2 separate regions of the Homo sapiens genome follow, and region 1 is linked to region 2. The links come from fine-mapping of genetic effects on gene expression. A gene starts in region 2. The other region holds a variant in brackets. All regions are shown on one strand. Distances are between the middles of the regions. Region 1 overlaps RAB40C (RAB40C, member RAS oncogene family). Region 2 holds the start of WFIKKN1 (WAP, follistatin/kazal, immunoglobulin, kunitz and netrin domain containing 1).

Region 1 (5,366 bases), 26 kb before region 2:
TGTTTTTTTTTATTAGAGAGACAGTTTCACTCTTCCAGGCTGGAGTGCAGTGATCATAGTTCACTGCAGCCTCAAATTCCAGGGTTCTAGTGATCCTCCCGCCTCAGCCTCTCAAGTAGCTAAGACCATAGGCATGCACCACAACACCTGGCTAATTTTTTAATAAATTATTTTTTTATTTTTGAGACAAAGTCTTGCTCTTGTCCACCAGGCTGGAGTGTGATGGCACGATCTTGGCTCACTGCAACGTCTGCCTCCTGGGTTCAAGCCTCTTGCCTCAGCCCCCCGAGTAGCTGGGATTACAGGCACCTGCCACCACGCCCGGCTAGTTTTTTGGTATTTTTTTAGTAGAGATGAGGTTTCACCATGTCGGCCAGGCTGGTCTCGAGTTCCTGACCTCAAGTGATCCACCCACCTCGGCCTCCCAAAGTGCTGGGATTACAGGCGTGAGCCACTGTGCCTGGCCAATAAATTATTTTTTGTAGAATTGAGGTCTTGCCATGTTGCCTAGGCTAGTGGTCTTGAACTCCTGGGCTCAAGTGATTCTCTCACCTTGGCCTCCCAAAGTGTCGAGATGACAGGTGTTAGCCACCAAGCACAGCCAGAAATGAGTCTTAAAGTGGACATGAGATTGGGGTTTAAGCCACACTAAGCTGGATTTGTAATCATTGAAAGTAATCTGAGAGCTATGGGATCTGCTCCTTAAAAGATGGGAGAGGAGAATTTTAAGAGATAGGGTCTCACTGTGTTGCCCAGGCTGGTCTTGAACCGTGGCGCTGAAGCAATCCTCCTGCCTCAGCCTCCTGAGTAGCTGGGGCCAGACCTGTGTTTTTTGTTTTCTTAATGTTCTGTGTTTAGCCAGGTGTTCTGTGCCAAGTGTGCCTGCTCTTTGTAGACACGAGAGCCCTTTTGGCTTGTTGTGGGTTTTAAGGCGTTAAGTAAAAGCTCTAGCTTCGCAGGAAACCAGTCCACAAACTGCCCTAGAATTTCTTCTGACATTTGGCATGCTGGTGTACACAGACACATTTGAAATTTGTTAGATAACTTTTCCTTCCTTTACTGTCCTCCATCAGGCAGGCGCCGGTTTGCCTGCAGTGGGGTTGGTGGACGTGGGCTGTCCTTGTCTCAGAAGACATCCGAGGGGAGTGGTATGCCGGAAGATTGAATGCGGAGCGCCGGCCCCGCACGTGAATGACTTAGAGCCCCAGGTCTTCAGGGACAGGCAGTGCCTTCACATCTGGCTCTGATATGTGTTCAGGCTGTCTTGTAGGGTAATCCGGTCCCCTAATCCTTAGACCTCCAAATTCAAAGCAGATCAATGCCCTGTGGGTTTAATTTTTTTAAATCAATTTTATTGAGAGATGATGTCTATTTAATAAATGTACCCTCTTTGCATGTACAGTTCTATGAGTTTTGGCACATATATGTACCTATGCAGCCAGTACCCTCATCCAAATCAGGAGCACATCCACTCTCCTCCCAGAAAGCCCCTCAGGCCCTGCCGAGTCAGCCCCCAGCCCCCAGCAGTCGGCTTCCATCACATGGGCTGCTTTTTCCTGTTCCAGACATCATGGATACGAAGCAGACCCTGGTTTCTTTTGCTCAGCAGTTTTGAAACTTATTCATGATGTACAATAGTAGATTCTTCTTTTTTTGTTCCCAAGTGGTATTCCTTTGCACAAATATACCCCAGTTTGTTTATGCATTTACCTTGTTGATGCACATTTGGGTTATTTCCTGGTTTGGGGTATTACGAATAATGCTGATGTGAACGAGTTCTTCTTTTTTCTTTTTCTTTTTTTTTTTTTTGAGACTCTCGTTCTGTTGCCCCAGCTGGAGTGCAGTGGTATGATCTCAGCTCACTGCAGCCTCTACCTCTTGGGCTCAACTGATCCTCCCACCTAGCAGCTCCCTAGCAGCTGGGACTACAGGCATGTACCACCACACCCGGCTCAGAGCTAGTTCTTTTAAATTTTTTTTTTTAATTATTTTTCTTGTAAAATACAGAAAACACGTCATTTTAGCCATATGTAGGGATACAGTTCAGTGGCACTAGCACTAAACTATAACACAAATACGCACGAGGCCTTCTGAAGGTGTTTCTCTAGAATACACGTGAATCCTTCTGAAGGTGTTTCTCTAGAATACACGAGTCCTTCTGAAGGTGTTTCTCTAGAATATATGTGAGTCCTTCTGAAGGTGTTTCTCTAGAATACACGTGAGTCCTTCTGAGGGTGTTTCTCTAGAATACACGTGAGTCTTTCTGAAGGTGTTTCTCTAGAATATATGTGAGTCTTTCTGAAGGTGTTTCTCTAGAATACACGTGAGTCCTTCTGAAGGTGTTTCTCTAGAATATATGTGAGTCTTTCTGAAGGTGTTTCTGTTCCCTTAGGTAGATCTAAGAGTGGAATTGCTGTCATATATGAGTGTACGTTTTAATTTATAAGCTTGCCCAGCCTGGGCAACATAGTGAGAACTCGTTGCTATAAACATATTGAAAAATTAGCCTGGGGCTGGGTGTGGTGGCTCATGCCTGTAGTCTCAGCACTTTGGGAGGCCGAGGCAGGCAGATCACTTGAGGTCAGGAGTTTGAGACCAGCCTGGCCAACATGGTGAAACCGTATCTCTACTAAAAATACAAAGTTAGCCTGGTGTGGTGGTGGTGCTTGTGGTCCCAGTTACTTGGGAGGCTGAGGCAGGACAATCACTTGAACCCGGGAGGCGGAGGTTGGAGTGAGCTGAGATCATGCCACTGCACTCCAGCCTGGGCGACAGAGTGAGACTTTGTCTCAAAAAAATAAATAAATTAGCCTGGTGTGGTGACGCACACTTGTAATAGTCTTAGCTACTCAGGAGGCTGAGGCAGGAGGATCGTGTGAGCCCTGGAGTTGGAGGCTGCAGCGAGCCGTGATTGTTCCGCTGCACTCCAGCCTGAGCAGCACAGTGAGACCTGATCTCAAAAGAGAAAACTGTTTGCTCAAGCAGCCCCATTGTTTCATAGTCCCATCAGCAATGCATGAGAGTTCCAGGTGCTCCACATCTTTGCCAACATTTGATGTTGTCAGCTTTCCGTCTTTTAATTAATCAGCTTTATTGAGGTGTAATTTGTGTACAAAAAAACCCCTTTAAAGTCTGCAATACAGTGAGTGCGGACAGGCATGCC[G/A]GCCTGAGAAAGCATCAGCCCTCGCAGCCTCGCCCTCTGCAGGCCTCTCACACTCTGCCCCCGGCCTGGCATGTCACTGTGGACTCATCTGCCTTGTCTAGTTTTCACGTCAATGGAGCCACACAGGGCAAACTCTCCTGTGTCCGGCTGCCTTCTTTCCATGTCTTCTGGGTGAGCTTCGGCCACGTGGTTGAGTGCAGTTGCTCCCTCCTTCCCCGCGCCGAGTGGTCTCCCGTGTGTCAAGGCTGCAGTGCATTGGCTCCACTCCAGATGGGCTTTGGGATGGTTTCCATGTTGGGTGACTCTCACAGGGCTCCTGTGAGGAGTCTCAGACGCGTTTGGTCAACACAGGTGCCCATTGCTGTTGGGACGTACTGAGGAGTGGAAGCTGGGCTGTAGGGCCTGTGTAGATGCTGCCAACCCGTTCTCCAAAGCAGTCACACAGTTTCTGTCCCACAGGAGAGAGGGAGAGTCCTGTTTGTTCTAAGTCCTGCCTTCCTTTTAGCCATGCTGATGGCTGCAAGCTTGTTTCTTTGTAATAGCCATAGAACATTTCTATTCTGTCAGTAACCATTCCCCAGTGGGTGGATTTTTAGTTTGGATTCAGTTTATTTATAATAAATACAGGGCCGCAATAGATGGCCTTTCTACTCCTTTTCTGTTATTGCTGACACATAGTCCTCTCGGTCCTCAGTCCAGTGTGGGTTTCCCTGGGCTGAAGTCAAGGTGTTGGCTGACACACAGTCCTCTCGGTCCTCAGTCCAGTGTGGGTTTCCCTGGGCTGAAGTCAAGGTGTTGGCTGACACACAGTCCTCTCGGTCCTCAGTCCAGTGTGGGTTTCCCTGGGCTGAAGTCAAGGTGTTGGCTGACACACAGTCCTCTCGGTCCTCAGTCCAGTGTGGGTTTCCCTGGGCTGAAGTCAAGGTGTTGGCTGACACGCAGTCCTCTCGGTCCTCAGTCCAGTGTGGGTTTCCCTGGGCTGAAGTCAAGGTGTTGGCTGACACGCAGTCCTCTCGGTCCTCAGTCCAGTGTGGGTTTCCCTGAGCTGAAGTCAAGGTGTTGGCTGACACACAGTCCTCTCGGTCCTCAGTCCAGTGTGGGTTTCCCTGGGCTGAAGTCAAGGTGTTGGCCAGGGCTTTGCTTTTTGCAGGCCCTACAGGAAGATGTTCTCTTGCTCGTTGGGAGGTTGGCAGAATTCCGTTCTTGCTGGTGGTAGGACTGGCAGTAGCACCTTGCTGGGTGCAAGCCGAGCCTTTCCCGGCTTCTCCAGGCCGCCTGCGTTGTTCACGGAGGGCCCTTGCCCATCTGCAGAGCCAGCACTGGCGGGTGAAGTCCCTCTCATGCTTTGACTCTCCTTCTGTCTCATCTGTAGCTCAGCCAGGAAAGGCGGTTAAGGACTTATGTAGTTAATTGGCCCCACCCAGATAATCCCGGATAATCTCCCACCTCGAGATCCGTGCACCTTAATCCTGTCTGCAGAGTCCCATGCTAGCAACTCAGCAGCAAACAGCCCCTGCACTGTGCCCTGCAGGAACATGGCTGCTGGTGGCAGGCCGGCCCAGACAGACAGACTACCACCTGAGCCAAGGAACCTCCACTCAGGTGGCCGAGGGTCCCACTTCCGAGCCGAGGGTGCTACGCAGGCTCAGCAGCCAGCCTCCCTCGGCTGCCTTACAGCAACTCTGCTGACAGTCCCTGGGCAGATTGGCCTCCATGGGCAGGGGCACAGGTGCCACGTCCACTCCCCAGACCACCAGCACGTTGATGACTGTTGAAAACAAAGTCGCCTGGGCACGGTGGCTCAACCCTGTCATCCCAGCGCTTTGGGAGGCCGAGGTGGGTGGATAACCTGAGGTCAGGAGTTTGAGACCAGCCTGGCCAACATGGTGAAACCCCATCTCTACTAAAAATACAAAAAAAAAAATTAGTTGGGCATGGTGGTGGGTGCCTGTAATCCCAGCTACTCGGGAGGCTGAGGCAGGAGAATCACTTGAACATGGGAGGTAGAGGTTGCAGTGAGCTGATATTGCGCCACCACACTCCGGCCTGGACAACGAGAGTGAAACTGTCTCAAAAAAAAAAAAAAACGGGGGGCCGGGCGCGGTGGCTCACGCCTGTAATCGCAGCACTTTGGGAGGCCTAGGCGGGCGGATCACAAGGTCAGGAGATGGAGACCACGGTGAAACCCCGTCTCTACCAAAAA
Region 2 (5,312 bases):
TCGTCCACGTCCACGTCCACCTGGGGGCCTCGGGAGGCTAGGCCCCTCCTCAAAGGCCCACCAGCCCGGCGCTCATGCTGAGCCCCAGGCACGCAGGGCCGGCCACCTCTCTCCTGAAGCCATTGGCCGCTCCTCCACCCAGTGCTTCTGCCCATGCCTGCCCCAGCAGCCCCTCTGCACGGTCACCATCGCCTGGGCCTGCCCACAGCACTGGTGCTCACCTCTACCTCCTGTCCTCAGGCCGTGCGGCACGACATGGCCAGCACGCAGAAGGAGCCCTCCCGGGACCCAGGACCCCCCGTGGTGGACTCCGCGGCACATGCTTCCCAAGGTGGTCCCACGGAGGGTGTTACTGGGCACCAGTGGACTCGCCCCATGGCCCGTTCCTGGGAGATGAGGGCCGTGGCCTGCATGAACTACCAGATGAGTAAGGGAACCCCAGGCAGGCGGCCCTGCCACAGCCCCCAAAGACACTGGCCTCCTGCTCCAGCTTCCCTGTCCTGGCCCCACCTGTCCTGTTGCTGCCAGCAGGGCCCTTGTTTGGGATTATGAACAAACCTCACAGACTTTGAGGACCTGGATGGTCCTGCATTCACGGCATCAACACTACCCGCGCTGCTGTTAGACACTCCGCCATTCCTGGTTCTCTCCGAACCGTTCTTTGTACAGTAAATGTAATTCAGCTGTGGTCCCCACGTTTTGCTGTGTCTGGTGGGGTGGGTCTGGCAGTGGCGGTGCCCCGTGCCAGGGGCCAGTGCTGCTTCATACCCGGCAAACTGACCTCTGGCCTTTGTTTTGCCTGCTGTTCCCTGCGCTGACCGGGCTGACCTGCCGCGGTTGGCTGGGTTCGCCTCAAAGTGAGGGCTGGAGCTGGGCTGGAGCAGCTGGGCCTGGTCACGGCCATTCTCCTCTTCCCGGTGGATGGAATCCCAGCTGGGCTGTGCTGAGCCCTCGCTCACAGTCCCCGGCAGCAGATGGCCTGGGGCGGACTGTCCCCAACAGCAGCAGGACTCCAGAGGGCCAGGTCCTCCAGTCAGTCGGCCCGCTCAGCAGAGCCGCCTGCACGCTGGCCAATCTGGTGTCTGCTATGCCCGGCCCAGGGGGGTGTGGACGCCCCGGAGGTCACAGCTGAGCTGGAACGGGGCACTCCAGTTGGTACAGGGACCAGACCACAGCCTCTGGCTCAGGTGCCTCCCTGTGCTGTTTCGTGGGCATGTCCGGGCCTTAAGCCCCTCCCTGGCAGCTCCAGCCCAGCCGCCTGCTGCTGGGTCTGGCCTAGCTACCCCCACCCCCACGCTATCAGGGCCCACCCCCAGTCTCCTTGTAGAGCAGGGACTGGCGCCTGGAGCCGTCTCCGGGTCTCATTCTGACCAGACCAGGCTCCTGTTACCCTGCCTCCTGGGTCAGAGGTCAGACACAGGGTCAGGGGGACACTCCCATCCGGTCTCAAGAGAACCACTCCCTGAGGCCCCAGACATCTGGAGCCACAGAGGGTTTGGAAGGGTAGATTCCAGGCAGCCTTTTGTCCTGCTGCACCAGGCAGGCCAGCCCCCTGCCCTCCCCAACGAAGAGGAGCCAGCCTGGGGATGTGTGCCCCGCCGACGGGGGGCTGGGGCAGGGCAAGGCTCTGGTGCCCTGGGACACTTGCTCTTTTCAGCTGCAGACGCCCTTGCACTTGGCCTTCCCTCGGGCGGTGCCATCCCACGCGGAGCCACGTCCAGGGCTACACGGTGCGTGGGCCGAGGCTCCGGCATCAGCGTTTCGGGCTGTTCTTATGCTTGTGGTGGCCACAGGCCTCTTCCTGCTGCACCTGCCCCGCCTTGGGGACAGGCCTGAGCCCCAAGCCCGCTGCCTGGTTTCAGGGATGGGGTCTCTGGGAATGCAGTCCTGCCGGGTTGGGCCCCACTCCAACAGGGGCAGCAGAGCAGAGGAGGCCGGGCTGTGCTGGGCGTCCTGCAGACCCCTGTGCCCCTGAAACAGCCATGGAGGGGGGAAGGAACCTCGGAGCGGAGTGAAGCCCTCGGCCGCACGTGACCGTTGCCAGCCTGGACCTGGCCCGGGGGACCCAGGCTGTGGTCAGCCACGCTCTGCGGGGAGGGCCCGTGCCTGCCACCCCCATGGCATAGGAGCCTGGGGTCCAGAGGGCGCCAGGGACAAAAGCTGGGATCTGCTGGCCCTGCCCCCACCCTACTGAGGGTCGTCAAGGAGATTGATCTCAGCCCAGGGGTGGACGAAGGGGTTCAGGTTACAGGGTCCCCTCCCCTCCCCCTCTCCAGCCAGAGCCAGCCCTTCCCCGCCCCGGTGACCCTCATGGCCAGTGGCTCTGTGCTCATGGGCCTCTGGCCCCTCCCCAACCTCCTCCCCTCTGCCCTGTGCTGACCAGGGCCTGGGAGCCCCCGCACGGTTCAGACAGAGGGGCCAGGCTGAAGCTGGAGAGGAACCAGCGTCACACAGACGGCCTCTGAGAACTTGGAGACCCCGTTACCCACCCAGCAGGGGTGTCAGGACAAGCATCTGCTGCAGGCTTCAGCCTCAGGGGCAAAAGGGAGCCCCGGGGTCCTGGTGGGGGCACCGACCACAGGCCCGGAGGGTGGATGCCTGCAGGAAGCTGGGCTCTGTGGAGCCCGAGGAGGGGCTGGTGGCCACACCCCCCGGCCCCCTGGCTCGGCGGCCCTCATGCCCGCCCTACGTCCACTCCTGCCGCTCCTGCTCCTCCTCCGGCTGACCTCGGGGGCTGGCTTGCTGCCAGGGCTGGGGAGCCACCCGGGCGTGTGCCCCAACCAGCTCAGCCCCAACCTGTGGGTGGACGCCCAGAGCACCTGTGAGCGCGAGTGTAGCAGGGACCAGGTGAGTGTGGTCGGGCCGGGGTCCTGGGGCTCAGAGCAGCCAGCCTGGGCAAGACCCTGCTGGAGGTGCCACCTTCTGCCTGGGCTCCCCAGACTTCTGGGGGGTCTGGGTCTGGGCCCCTTAAGGGGCCCAGAGACACCCCCATCGTTGCCCTCATTTGTCTTAAGAATAAGAGCCCTCCCCACTCCAGCTTTCATGCTCCCCATGTGCCTCCACCCTGGGGCACCATCATCCTCGGCGACCACCCCCACCCCGTCACTGCCTCTCCTCCCACCCTCTCCTCCCACCCTCTCCTCCCATCCACTTCTCCCACCCCTTCACTGCCTCTCCTTCCATCCTCTCCTCCCACCCTCTCCTCCCATCCACTCCTCCCATCCACTTCTTCCATCCTCTTCTCCCACCCCGTCACTGCCTCTCCTTCCATCCTCTCCTATCCACTCCTCCCATCCACTTCTTCCATCCTCTTCTCCCACCCCATCACTGCCTCTCCTTCCATCCTCTCCTATCCACTCCTCCCATCCACTTTTTCCATCCTCTTCTCTCACCCCGTCATTGCCTCTCCTTCCATCCTCTCCTCCCATCCACTTCTCCCACCCCTTCACTGCCTCTCCTCCCACCCTCTCCTCCCATCCACTCCTCCCATCCACTCCTCCCATCCACTTCTTCCATCCTCTTCTCCCACCCCGTCACTGCCTCTCCTTCCATCCTCTCCTCCCACCCTCTCCTTCCATCCTCTCCTCCCACCCTCTCCTTCCATCCACTGTCCTCCCTGTCCTCCCACCCTCCTTCCATCCGGGACCAGTGCAGATGGTGGTGGGGGTGCTGCAGCCGATGTCCAGCCTTTGTCCTGGCCCGCACCACCTGCTGGGTGGTCCTGAGCACTGTACGCCCTCCTTGGGCCTCAGTTTCCTCGTCTGTACAACGTAAAGAATAACGGAACTTGCTTGTGGGTGTGAGGATTCTGGAAGGTAAGCCAGGTGGCACCTCTGGCGAGGTGGCTCCTCACACAGGATGGAAAGGACACTGAGTCCCCGGGGAGGCAGCCACAGAGCGGGGGGCTCCCTGCTACCCCACCTGGGCCTCCCCTTGCAGGGGCCAGGCCAGAGCCCCGGGGCGGGGGGCATTGGGGCTCCCACCTAAGTGTCCCCCATCCCCAGGACTGTGCGGCTGCTGAGAAGTGCTGCATCAACGTGTGTGGACTGCACAGCTGCGTGGCAGCACGCTTCCCCGGCAGCCCAGCTGCGCCGACGACAGCGGCCTCCTGCGAGGGCTTTGTGTGCCCACAGCAGGGCTCGGACTGCGACATCTGGGACGGGCAGCCCGTGTGCCGCTGCCGCGACCGCTGTGAGAAGGAGCCCAGCTTCACCTGCGCCTCGGACGGCCTCACCTACTACAACCGCTGCTATATGGACGCCGAGGCCTGCCTGCGGGGCCTGCACCTCCACATCGTGCCCTGCAAGCACGTGCTCAGCTGGCCGCCCAGCAGCCCGGGGCCGCCGGAGACCACTGCCCGCCCCACACCTGGGGCCGCGCCCGTGCCTCCTGCCCTGTACAGCAGCCCCTCCCCACAGGCGGTGCAGGTTGGGGGTACGGCCAGCCTCCACTGCGACGTCAGCGGCCGCCCGCCGCCTGCTGTGACCTGGGAGAAGCAGAGTCACCAGCGAGAGAACCTGATCATGCGCCCTGATCAGATGTATGGCAACGTGGTGGTCACCAGCATCGGGCAGCTGGTGCTCTACAACGCGCGGCCCGAAGACGCCGGCCTGTACACCTGCACCGCGCGCAACGCTGCTGGGCTGCTGCGGGCTGACTTCCCACTCTCTGTGGTCCAGCGAGAGCCGGCCAGGGACGCAGCCCCCAGCATCCCAGCCCCGGCCGAGTGCCTGCCGGATGTGCAGGCCTGCACGGGCCCCACTTCCCCACACCTTGTCCTCTGGCACTACGACCCGCAGCGGGGCGGCTGCATGACCTTCCCGGCCCGTGGCTGTGATGGGGCGGCCCGCGGCTTTGAGACCTACGAGGCATGCCAGCAGGCCTGTGCCCGCGGCCCCGGCGACGCCTGCGTGCTGCCTGCCGTGCAGGGCCCCTGCCGGGGCTGGGAGCCGCGCTGGGCCTACAGCCCGCTGCTGCAGCAGTGCCATCCCTTCGTGTACGGTGGCTGCGAGGGCAACGGCAACAACTTCCACAGCCGCGAGAGCTGCGAGGATGCCTGCCCCGTGCCGCGCACACCGCCCTGCCGCGCCTGCCGCCTCCGGAGCAAGCTGGCGCTGAGCCTGTGCCGCAGCGACTTCGCCATCGTGGGGCGGCTCACGGAGGTGCTGGAGGAGCCCGAGGCCGCCGGCGGCATCGCCCGCGTGGCGCTCGAGGACGTGCTCAAGGATGACAAGATGGGCCTCAAGTTCTTGGGCACCAAGTACCTGGAGGTGACGCTGAGTGGCATGGACTGGGCCTGCCCCTGCCCCAAC

The links. PIP is the estimated chance that this variant, and not a neighbour inherited with it, causes the effect.
Region 1: its variant is the best candidate, but not a certain one, in a credible set for the expression of WFIKKN1 in thyroid (GTEx, PIP 0.66).

Annotation. Positions count from the first base shown.
Region 1 is chr16:602,267-607,632 of GRCh38, forward strand. The region is part of intron 1 of RAB40C (RAB40C, member RAS oncogene family); the gene reads left to right. It overlaps LOC124903618 (a long non-coding RNA gene), which reads right to left. Exons shown (of 2, transcript XR_007064934.1): 2 at 3,067-5,366. Among named protein-coding and RNA genes, the nearest start is that of RAB40C, 15 kb to the left of the region's middle. The variant G/A (reference allele first, on the strand shown) is at 3,164.
Region 2 is chr16:628,578-633,889 of GRCh38, forward strand. WFIKKN1 (WAP, follistatin/kazal, immunoglobulin, kunitz and netrin domain containing 1) reads left to right here and starts at 2,408. Exons shown (of 2, transcript NM_053284.3): 1 at 2,408-2,847; 2 at 4,005-5,312. The coding sequence starts at 2,677. RAB40C (RAB40C, member RAS oncogene family) reads left to right here. Exons shown (of 6, transcript NM_021168.5): 6 at 1-691. RefSeq lists enhancers at 1,033-1,766, 1,292-1,586, 1,767-2,501.